Linked DNA regions of Homo sapiens. The protein of the gene in region 1 interacts with the protein of each later gene in a pairwise test. Each region holds a gene or a part of one and is shown in the gene's direction. Other genes may lie near its edges.

What was found.
Region 2: the proteins of DNASE1L1 (region 1) and PECAM1 interact in binary tests that used the Homo sapiens proteins (3 or more experiments, as listed by UniProt).

Annotation. Positions count from the first base shown.
Region 1 is NC_000023.11:154,406,269-154,410,844, reverse strand, and holds the start of DNASE1L1 (deoxyribonuclease-1-like 1 precursor), read left to right. Parts: upstream 1-1,590; 5' UTR 1,591-1,733; exon of another isoform or gene 1,734-2,287; intron 2,288-4,576.
Region 2 is NC_000017.11:64,380,582-64,384,389, reverse strand, and holds part of PECAM1 (platelet endothelial cell adhesion molecule precursor), read left to right. Parts: intron 1-3,808. UniProt on the Homo sapiens protein: Cell adhesion molecule which is required for leukocyte transendothelial migration (TEM) under most inflammatory conditions.

The DNA of each region.
Region 1 (4,576 bases):
TGCAGTGGCACAATCTCGGCTCACTGCAACCTCCGCCTCCCGGGTTCAAGCTATTCTCCTGCCTCAGCCTCCTGAGTAGCTGGGACTACAGGCGCAGGTCGCCACGCCCGGCTAATTTTTTTTTTTTTTTGTATTTTAGTAGAGATGGGGTTTCACCATGTTGCCCAGGTTGGTCTCGAACTCCTGAGCTCAGGCAGTCCACCCACCTCAGCCTCCCAAAGTGCTAGGATTACAGGCATGGGCCACCGCACCCGGCAGTTTTTTATTTTTATTTTTATTTATTTTTATTTTTGAGACAGAGTCTTGCTCTGTTGCCCAGGCTGGAGTGCAGTGACGAGATCTCAGCTCATTGCAACCTCTGCCTCCCAGGTTCAAGCGATTCTTCTGTCTCAGCCTCCTGAGTAGCTGGGATTACAGGCGCAAGCCACCACACCTGGCTAATTTTTGTATTTTTAGTAGAGGCTGGGTTTCTTCATGTTGGTCAAGCTGGTCTCGAACTCCCGGCCTCAGGTGATCTGTCTGCCTCTCCTCCCAAAGTGTGAGTCATCCTACCTGGCCTGTTTTTTATTTTTAAACCATAATTTATTGATTTTTTTTTTTGAGATGGAGTCTCGCACTGTCGCCCGGGCTGGAGTGCGAGTGCAGTGGTGTGATCTCGGCTCACTGCAAGCTCCGCCTTCCAGGCTCAAGCAATTCTCCTGCCTCAGCCTCCTGAGTAGCTGGGATTACAGGCGCCCACCACCACGCCGGGCTAATTTTTTGTATTTTTAGTAGAAACGGGTTTCATTATGTTGGCCAGGCTGGTCTTGAACGCCTGACCTCGTATCCACCCGCCTCAGCCTCCCAAAGTGCTGGGATTACAGGCATGAGCCACCACGCCCAGCCCATAATTTATTGATTTTTTAAAATTTGTCCAGCCTTCTATTACCACGTCGAATCCATTAGCTACAGCCATCCCATGAGAAGCTGAGTGGATTCAGCCCCACCTCCTGCTCACAGACCCTGTCCGAGCACCTCATTTGTCCCAACAGCATTACTGCAGGACCCCCAGGACGTTGGACTGCCAGCTCCCTGGGTCTCCTCCTCTCTGGGGCAGATCCTCAGTCCTCCCTTGACTTCACGACTGTGGCCAGATCATGTGTGGACTGTCCCTCTCTTTGGGTCTCCAGAGCGCTTGCATCAAACACCCCTAACTCAGAAGTGTGCAGCCACACTGGGACTCAGAACCCAACAACAGGGACAGAAGACTCACGCCCTTGGGGTGCCCGGTCTCGTGGCATCAGGCATGACTTCCAGCTCCTGCGCCTTCCCCAGCAACTGCTGACTGGGGACCCAGACCGGGAGCTGAGCGACGGGCCTGGCGAGCGAAGCTCGGGGTCTCACTCAGGCACCAGCCCCTCCTTGCCCCAGGCTTGAGTGACTCACAGGTCTGTCATGTCCCGCTGGCCCGGGAAGGCGGGGTCTGGGTGGGAAGGTGGGCGGGCAGGTCAGCAGTTCCCAGGCCTGGTGCTGGTCCTCCTTGTTGGCGGCGAGGCGGAGACGGGGCGGGCCTGCCTGTTGGCAAGGGTGGGGCGTCCGGCCCAGCCAGGCCCTTCCTGGCCGGGTGGCTCAGGAACACAGCCTCTTCCTCTTTTTTTTCCCCTCCTAGCCCTATTCAGGCAGGAGCTGCTCTTCTGGGGTATCGCGATCCACTTAAGGATGAGGCAGACTTGGTGACAAGCTGGTCTGAGCAGGTATGGGAGCCCCCTGGGGAGACGGAAGAAGGGAGGAAGTTGCCTTCTGCCTGGGGAGGGTTTGAGAGGGAGAGGGAAGCCTAGGGCTCCCACCAAGGCTGATATTGACAGCCAGGGTTTGGGGCTGAAGCCAGGAACCGTCGCTCTCTCTGGTTCTTACTGGTAGCCCTCATGGGGGTCCCTGACGCCAGAGCCTCCAAGGCTGCATGTGCCAGCCCAGGGCTGCCCACATACCCATGTATATCCCAGAATAGGCACCAGGGTAGGGAACCCAAACTAGCATGAGTGACAGAGCAGGTGGTCAGGGAGAAACAGACATCAAACCCAGCCAGGAGAGAGACACCGCAACAGAGAGACAGAGAAGGGAAACCAGAGACGAGAGGGAAAGTGAGACAGAGACGGACAGAGCCTCAGAGAGGTAGGAAGTGAGCCCGAAGGGAAGGTGACAGGTTGATAGAGAAAAGCAGGCAGACAGAGCAGAGGAACTCATGCCTCAGGATGCAAAAGCCACATGGACAGGGCGTGGAGCAAGGAGCCGAGCCCTGCAAGGTCAGGTGAGTGTGAGACAAAGATAAACTGAGAGAGGGGGGCTCCAGCTGGTGAGATGAACAAGAAGGGCTCCCCAGTGGTGGCAGGGGCATGGGAAAGAGTCCCCATCACAGGTTGCAATGGGGATGATTTGGCCATATCTGAGACCTTTTAAAATGCACACACCCTTCACTGCCGGGAGTTTATCTTAAAGAGAACATCTCACAAGTGGGGAGACAGAGATGAACGAAGATGTTCCTGTAGTTGCTAATGGAGGCGAAAAGCACTGGGGTCTTGGAACAACATGGTGAAACCCCATCTCTCCAAACAAATTTTAAAAATTAGCTTGGTAGCCGGGCGCGGTGGCTCACACCTGTAATTCCAGCACTTTGGGAGGCTGAGGTGGGAGGATTACTTGAGGTCAGGAGTTTGAGACCAGCCTGGCCAACATGGTGAAACCCTGTCTCTACTAAAAGTACAAAAATTAGCCGGGTGTGGTGGCACGTGCCTGTAATCCTAGCTACTTGGGAGGCTGAGGCAGGATAATCTCTTGAGCCTGGGAGACGGAGGTTGCAGTGAACTGAGATCAAGCCACTGCACTCCAGCCTGGGAGACAGAGTGAGACTCCATCTCAAAAAAAGAAAAAAAAAATTAGCTTGGTGTGGCAGCATGCACCTGTAGTCCCATCTACTCGGAAGGCTGAGGTGAGAGCATCACTTGAGCCTGGAAGGTGGAGGTTGCAGTGAGCTGAGATCACATTACTGCCCTCCAGCCTGAGCAACAGAATGAGACTATCAAAAAAAAAAAAAAAAAAAAGGGGGGGGGCCGGGCGCGGTGGCTCACGCCTGTAGCCCCAACTACTCAGGAGGCTGAGGCAGGAGAATCACTTGAACCCGGAAGGCAGAGGTTGCAGTGAGCCAAGATCACGCCACTGCACTCCAGCCTGGTGACAGAGCAAGACTCCATCTCAAAAAAAAAAAAAAAAAAAAAAAAAAAGGTAGACTAGGCCAGGCGCAGTGGGTCAGGCCTATAATATCCCAGCACTGGCTGGGCGCAGTGGCTCACACCTGTAATCCCAGCACTTTGGGAGGCCAAGGCCGGCTGATCACCTGAAGTCAGGAGTTCGAGACCATCCTGGCCAAGATGGTGAAACCCTGTCTCTACTAAAAAATATAAAAATTAGCTGGGCGTGGTGGTGGGTGCCTGTAATCCCAGCTACTCGGGAGGCTGAGGCAGGGAGTTGCTTGAACCCAGGAGGCTGAGGTTGCAGTAAGCCGAGATCACGCCACTGCTCTCCAGTCTGGGCGACAGAGTGAGACTCTGTCTCAAAAAAAAAAAAAAAAAAAAAAAAAAAAAAAAAAAAAATCCCAGCACTTTGGGAGGCTGAGGTAGGAAGATCACTTGAGTCCAGCAGTTTGAGACCAGCCTGGGAAACATAGAATTCAGGAGGCTGCAGTGAGCTGTGATGGCACCATTGCACTCCAGTCTGGGCGACAGAGCAAGACTTTGTCCCAAATAAATAAACAATAAAAGAATAAGCTTGACCGCTTGTGCACTGTTGGCGAGAACGTAAAATGGTGCAGTCACCATGGAGACCAATATGACACTTCCTCAGAAAATTAAAACTAGAACTACCATATGATCCAGCAATTCCACTTCTGGGTATATACCCAAAAGAACTGAAAGCAGGGGCTGGGCGCTCTGGCTCACGCCTGTAATCCCAGCACTTTGAGAGGCCGAGGCGGGCAGATCACGAGGTCAAGAGATGCATGAGGCTGGGGCACCAGGGCTCATTCCTGCAATCCCAGCACTTTAGCAGGCTGAGGCAGGAGAATTGCTTGAGCCCAGGAGTTCAAGACCAGCCTGGGCAACATAGTGAGACCTTGTCTCTATTTAAAAAAAAAAAAAAAAAAAAAAAAGGACACGGTGGCTCACACCTGTAATCCCAGCACTTTGGGAGGCCAAGGTGGGCAGTTCACCTGAGGTCAGGAGTTCGAGACCAGCCTGACCAACATGAAGAAACCCCATCTCTACTAAAAATACAAAATTAGCTGGGCGTGGTGGAGCGTGCCTGTAGTCCCAGCTATTTGGGAGGCTGAGGCAGGAGAATCGCTTGAACCTGGGAGGCAGAGGTTGCAGTAAGCCGAGATCGCACCATTGCACTCCAGCCCGGGCAGCAAGAGCGAAACTCCGTCTCAAAAAAAAAAAAAAAAAACCAGATGGATGGATGAATGAATGAATGAACAAAATGTGGTCTACCCAGATGCCCAGACAATGGAATATGATTCAGCCATGAAAAGGAAAGAAATTCTACA
Region 2 (3,808 bases), on another chromosome or scaffold:
TCTTGAAGGGCTTCTATAGCAAGGGAGGTGGTGGTGGTTGTGGCGGTAAAAACTAGGTCACTGTTTTTGTTGTTTTGTCGATGATATTTGTGTTAAGATGAAGAGCTGAGACTCATATCTCAACAGAGTTTATAAAATGCTTTTCTTTTTTCCATCCTGCCCTCTCTTCTCCCTTGTCTGTTCGAGCTAGCCATGGGAATGTGGTGTTCCTGCCAGTGCATCCATTGAGTTCGTTTATTGTTAATTTATTTATTTTCTGAGATGGAGTTTTTGCTCTATTGCTCAGGCTGGAGTGCAATGATGTGATCTTGGCTCACTGCAACCTCTACCTCCTGGATTCAAGTGATTCTCCTGCCTCAGCCTCCTGAGTAGCTGGGATGACAAGTGCCCGCTACCATGCCCGGCTAATTTTTGTATTTTTAGTAAAGGCTAGGTTTCACCATGTTGGCCAGCGGGTCTCGAACTCTTGACCTCAGGTGATCCACCGACCTAGGCCTCCCAAAGAGCTGGGATTACAGGTGTGAGCCGCCACACCCTGCCGAGTTTGTTTATTTGAGCAGATAATGTGTGTTAGAGTTGCTTAGAAAAACAAGATGGTGGACGGGCCCCATGCTAGTGGGTACCATCCCTACTGGAAAAACCACTGCTTGGTGCATTAGCCAAATTTGCTTTAAAATTGTTTTTTAAAAAGGGAGGGCTTTTATAAAAATCAAATGAACTAGGACTGGTTAGTGGGAGGCTCACGCAAGGGTTGTGCTGAGGCTGGAAGGCCCAGAGTAGGAAGAGTTGTGGAGTGCAGAATGAGCTCTCCAAGGGCAGACACTGCCAGCCTCACTGTTCTCTGAACCCCCAGTATGGGGGACAGTGCTTGGCACAGAAAAACCCCCTTAAATGTTTGCTATGAATGGTGCTAAGGAAGAAGGCAGAGAATGTCAACCAGAGGCCAGGCACTGGGCAATATATACACGGCCCCTTCTGTGCCCTCAGCCACTTTGGCGCAGTCACTGTTTAGGTTAAAGATACCAGAGAAGGCAGGTATTCATGTTCCTACTTCGTAGGCAGAGACGTGGTGGCCCAGAGAGGTTAAATAACTCCCGAGATCACCCAGCTAAGCACTGTGGGATCACGGGTTTGAATCTGGTATGTCTGACTCCCTTCTGTACCCAGCACTGTCTGCTGGTCTAGGGCATAACCAGCCAGGGATGGGCAGCTCGTTCAGTAAACAGGAGAGCAGATGAATGACTCGTGTGGAGAGCACGCAGTGGAGTGAGCAAAACTGGGAGGCTGGAGAAGTCGCTTTAAATTAACCTGAAAATGTTTAATATGCTTTTTATTTTGTTTATTTTTTTTGAGATGGAGTCTATCTTTGTTGCCCAGGCTGGAGTGCAGTGGTGCAATCTCGGCTCACTGCAATATCCACCTCCCAGGTTCAAGTGATTCTTCTGCCTCAGCCTCCCGAGTAGATGGGATTACAGGCAACTGCCACCACGCCTGGCTAGTTTTTGTATCTTTAATAGAGATGGGGTTTCACCATGTTAGCCAGGAGGCTGGTCTCGAACTCCTGACCTCAAGTGATCTGCCCAGCTCAGCCTCCCAAAGTTCTGGGATTACAGGCATGAGCCACCACGCCCAGCCTTAAATATGGTTTTTATTTGAAAAAAAAAAAAATCCCTAGAAACATGTAGTGGAGACACAGCTTTAAAGCTCTGAATAGTTGATTTTCAGCTCATGCCTGTAATCCCAGCACTTGGGGAGGCTGAGGCGGGATGATTGCTTGAGGCCAGGCGTTTAAGAATAGCCTGGACAACATAGTAAGACCCCATCTCTAAAAAATTAAAATTAAAAAATAAAAAAAGAGTCGACTTTATTTCTGTAACTGGAAGAATCTAGCTAACATTTCTCAAGCACTTTATAGGTGCCAGGAACTCTACTTTAAGTAATTAAACTCAGGTTCTCATTTATACTTACATTCCTTGTGCCTATTGTATGGATAAGCAAACTGAGGCTCAGAGAAATTTAGGGACTTGCCAAAGGTCACACAGCTTTGTTAGTAGCAGAGATGAGATTTGGCCCAGGTCTGGCTCCGTGCACTTGATTTCTGCTCTTTAGTATCTCCTGGTTGAGTCACTGGAATACACAGCATAGCTTAAAATGAAGGAGGAAGTACTGAAGAGGTAATGGAAGGAGACCTAACTGTCTCTGAGAGGGAAGAGAGTGGTTGGGAGGGAACTATATTAATTGAGGAGTGCAGAGAAATTAATATGGTCCAAAGGAAAAAAAGGTTTTTTTGAGATGGAGTTTTGCTCTTATTTCCCAGGCTGGAGTGCAATGGCATGACCTTGGCTCACTGCAACCTCTGCCTCCCAGGTTCAAGCAGTTCTCCTGCCTCAGTCTCCCAAGTAGCTGGGATTACAGGCGCCCACCACCACACCCGGCTAATTTTGTATTTTTAGTAGAGATGAGGTTTCACCATGTTGGCCAGGCTGGTCTTGAACTCCTGACCTCAAGTGATCCACCCGCCTCGGCCTCCCAAAGTGCTGGGATTACAGGCATAAACCACCGTGCCCGGCTGGTCCAAAGAAAGTTGTGTGTCGAGAGCTCATCCAGCAGGCTTCTTAAATCAGGAGCTTGTAAGTTGCATATAAAGACAAAAAAGGGAGTTCCAAAGAGTAATGCTGTGGGAAATGACTTGAATTTAAACCGTCACCTTGTTTCATCTCATGGACTGGTCAGACACCATTTTTGTTGTCGTTGTTGTTGTTAAATTAATTGCTCAGAATATAGCAGCAGGCGCAAATTGTAGTACTCGTTTTAAAATTGAAGATTAAATTTTAAATTACCCAACAAAGGCCTAACTTTGTTAAAAGAGAGGGAAAGGACAGGTTCTGCCAGTATCTCTGGCCAGCTAGCTAACTAACTTTTTTCTTATTCCAAAAAAATGACTTGGGACCACTTATAAAAATTATGTATTGTTCAATGAGATACAATTAATGAGGAAATCAGGATGAGAGAAAAATAAAGGCAGGGAAATAAAGCTATGGCCCATTTAGCACAAACGCATCCCAAAGATTGCTAGAAGCAGAGGTGAAATTTTTGCTGTGTGTTAACAATCAAAGCAAAAAGAGGAACAAGGTCCATTAGAACATTCTCAGAATCCACAAGATAGAAATGAATCAGTTGTTCAGCATAAACACAGTGTTTCCTGGTGCTGTTGGAACACTTTGTGAAATTAGGGACAATATCTCATCAACATCCCAGACCAACATCCCAAAAGACCATTTAATAGCTTGCATCTGTGCTTCTCCCTACCCCATAGCCCCTCCCTCCAGAGATGACCACTATGCTGACTTGTAAAATATTAATCTTATATCCAGCCACCTTTCTTTTTCGTTTGTTTGTTTGTGTTTTTGCAGACAGAGTCTTATTCTGTCGCCCAGTGCAGTGTTGTGATCTCAACTTACTGCAACCTGTGCCTCCCAGGTTCAAGTGATTCCCCTGCCTCAGCCTCCCAAGTAGCTGGGATTACAGGTGCATGCCACAATGCCTGGCTAATTTTTGTATTTTTGGTAGAGACGGGGTTTCACCATGTTAGCCAGGCTGATCTCGAACTCCTGGCCTCCCACAGTGCTGGGATTACAGGTGTGAGCTGCCATTCCTGGCCTTATCCAGCCACCTTTCTAAACTCACATTTATTTCTAATAATTTGTCTGCAGACTCTTTGAGGTTTTTACATATCATGTCATCTGTCTTTGAGAGTTTTAAACATTGGACTGCTCCATTCACTCAAAAATTTTAAAAAATTCCATGA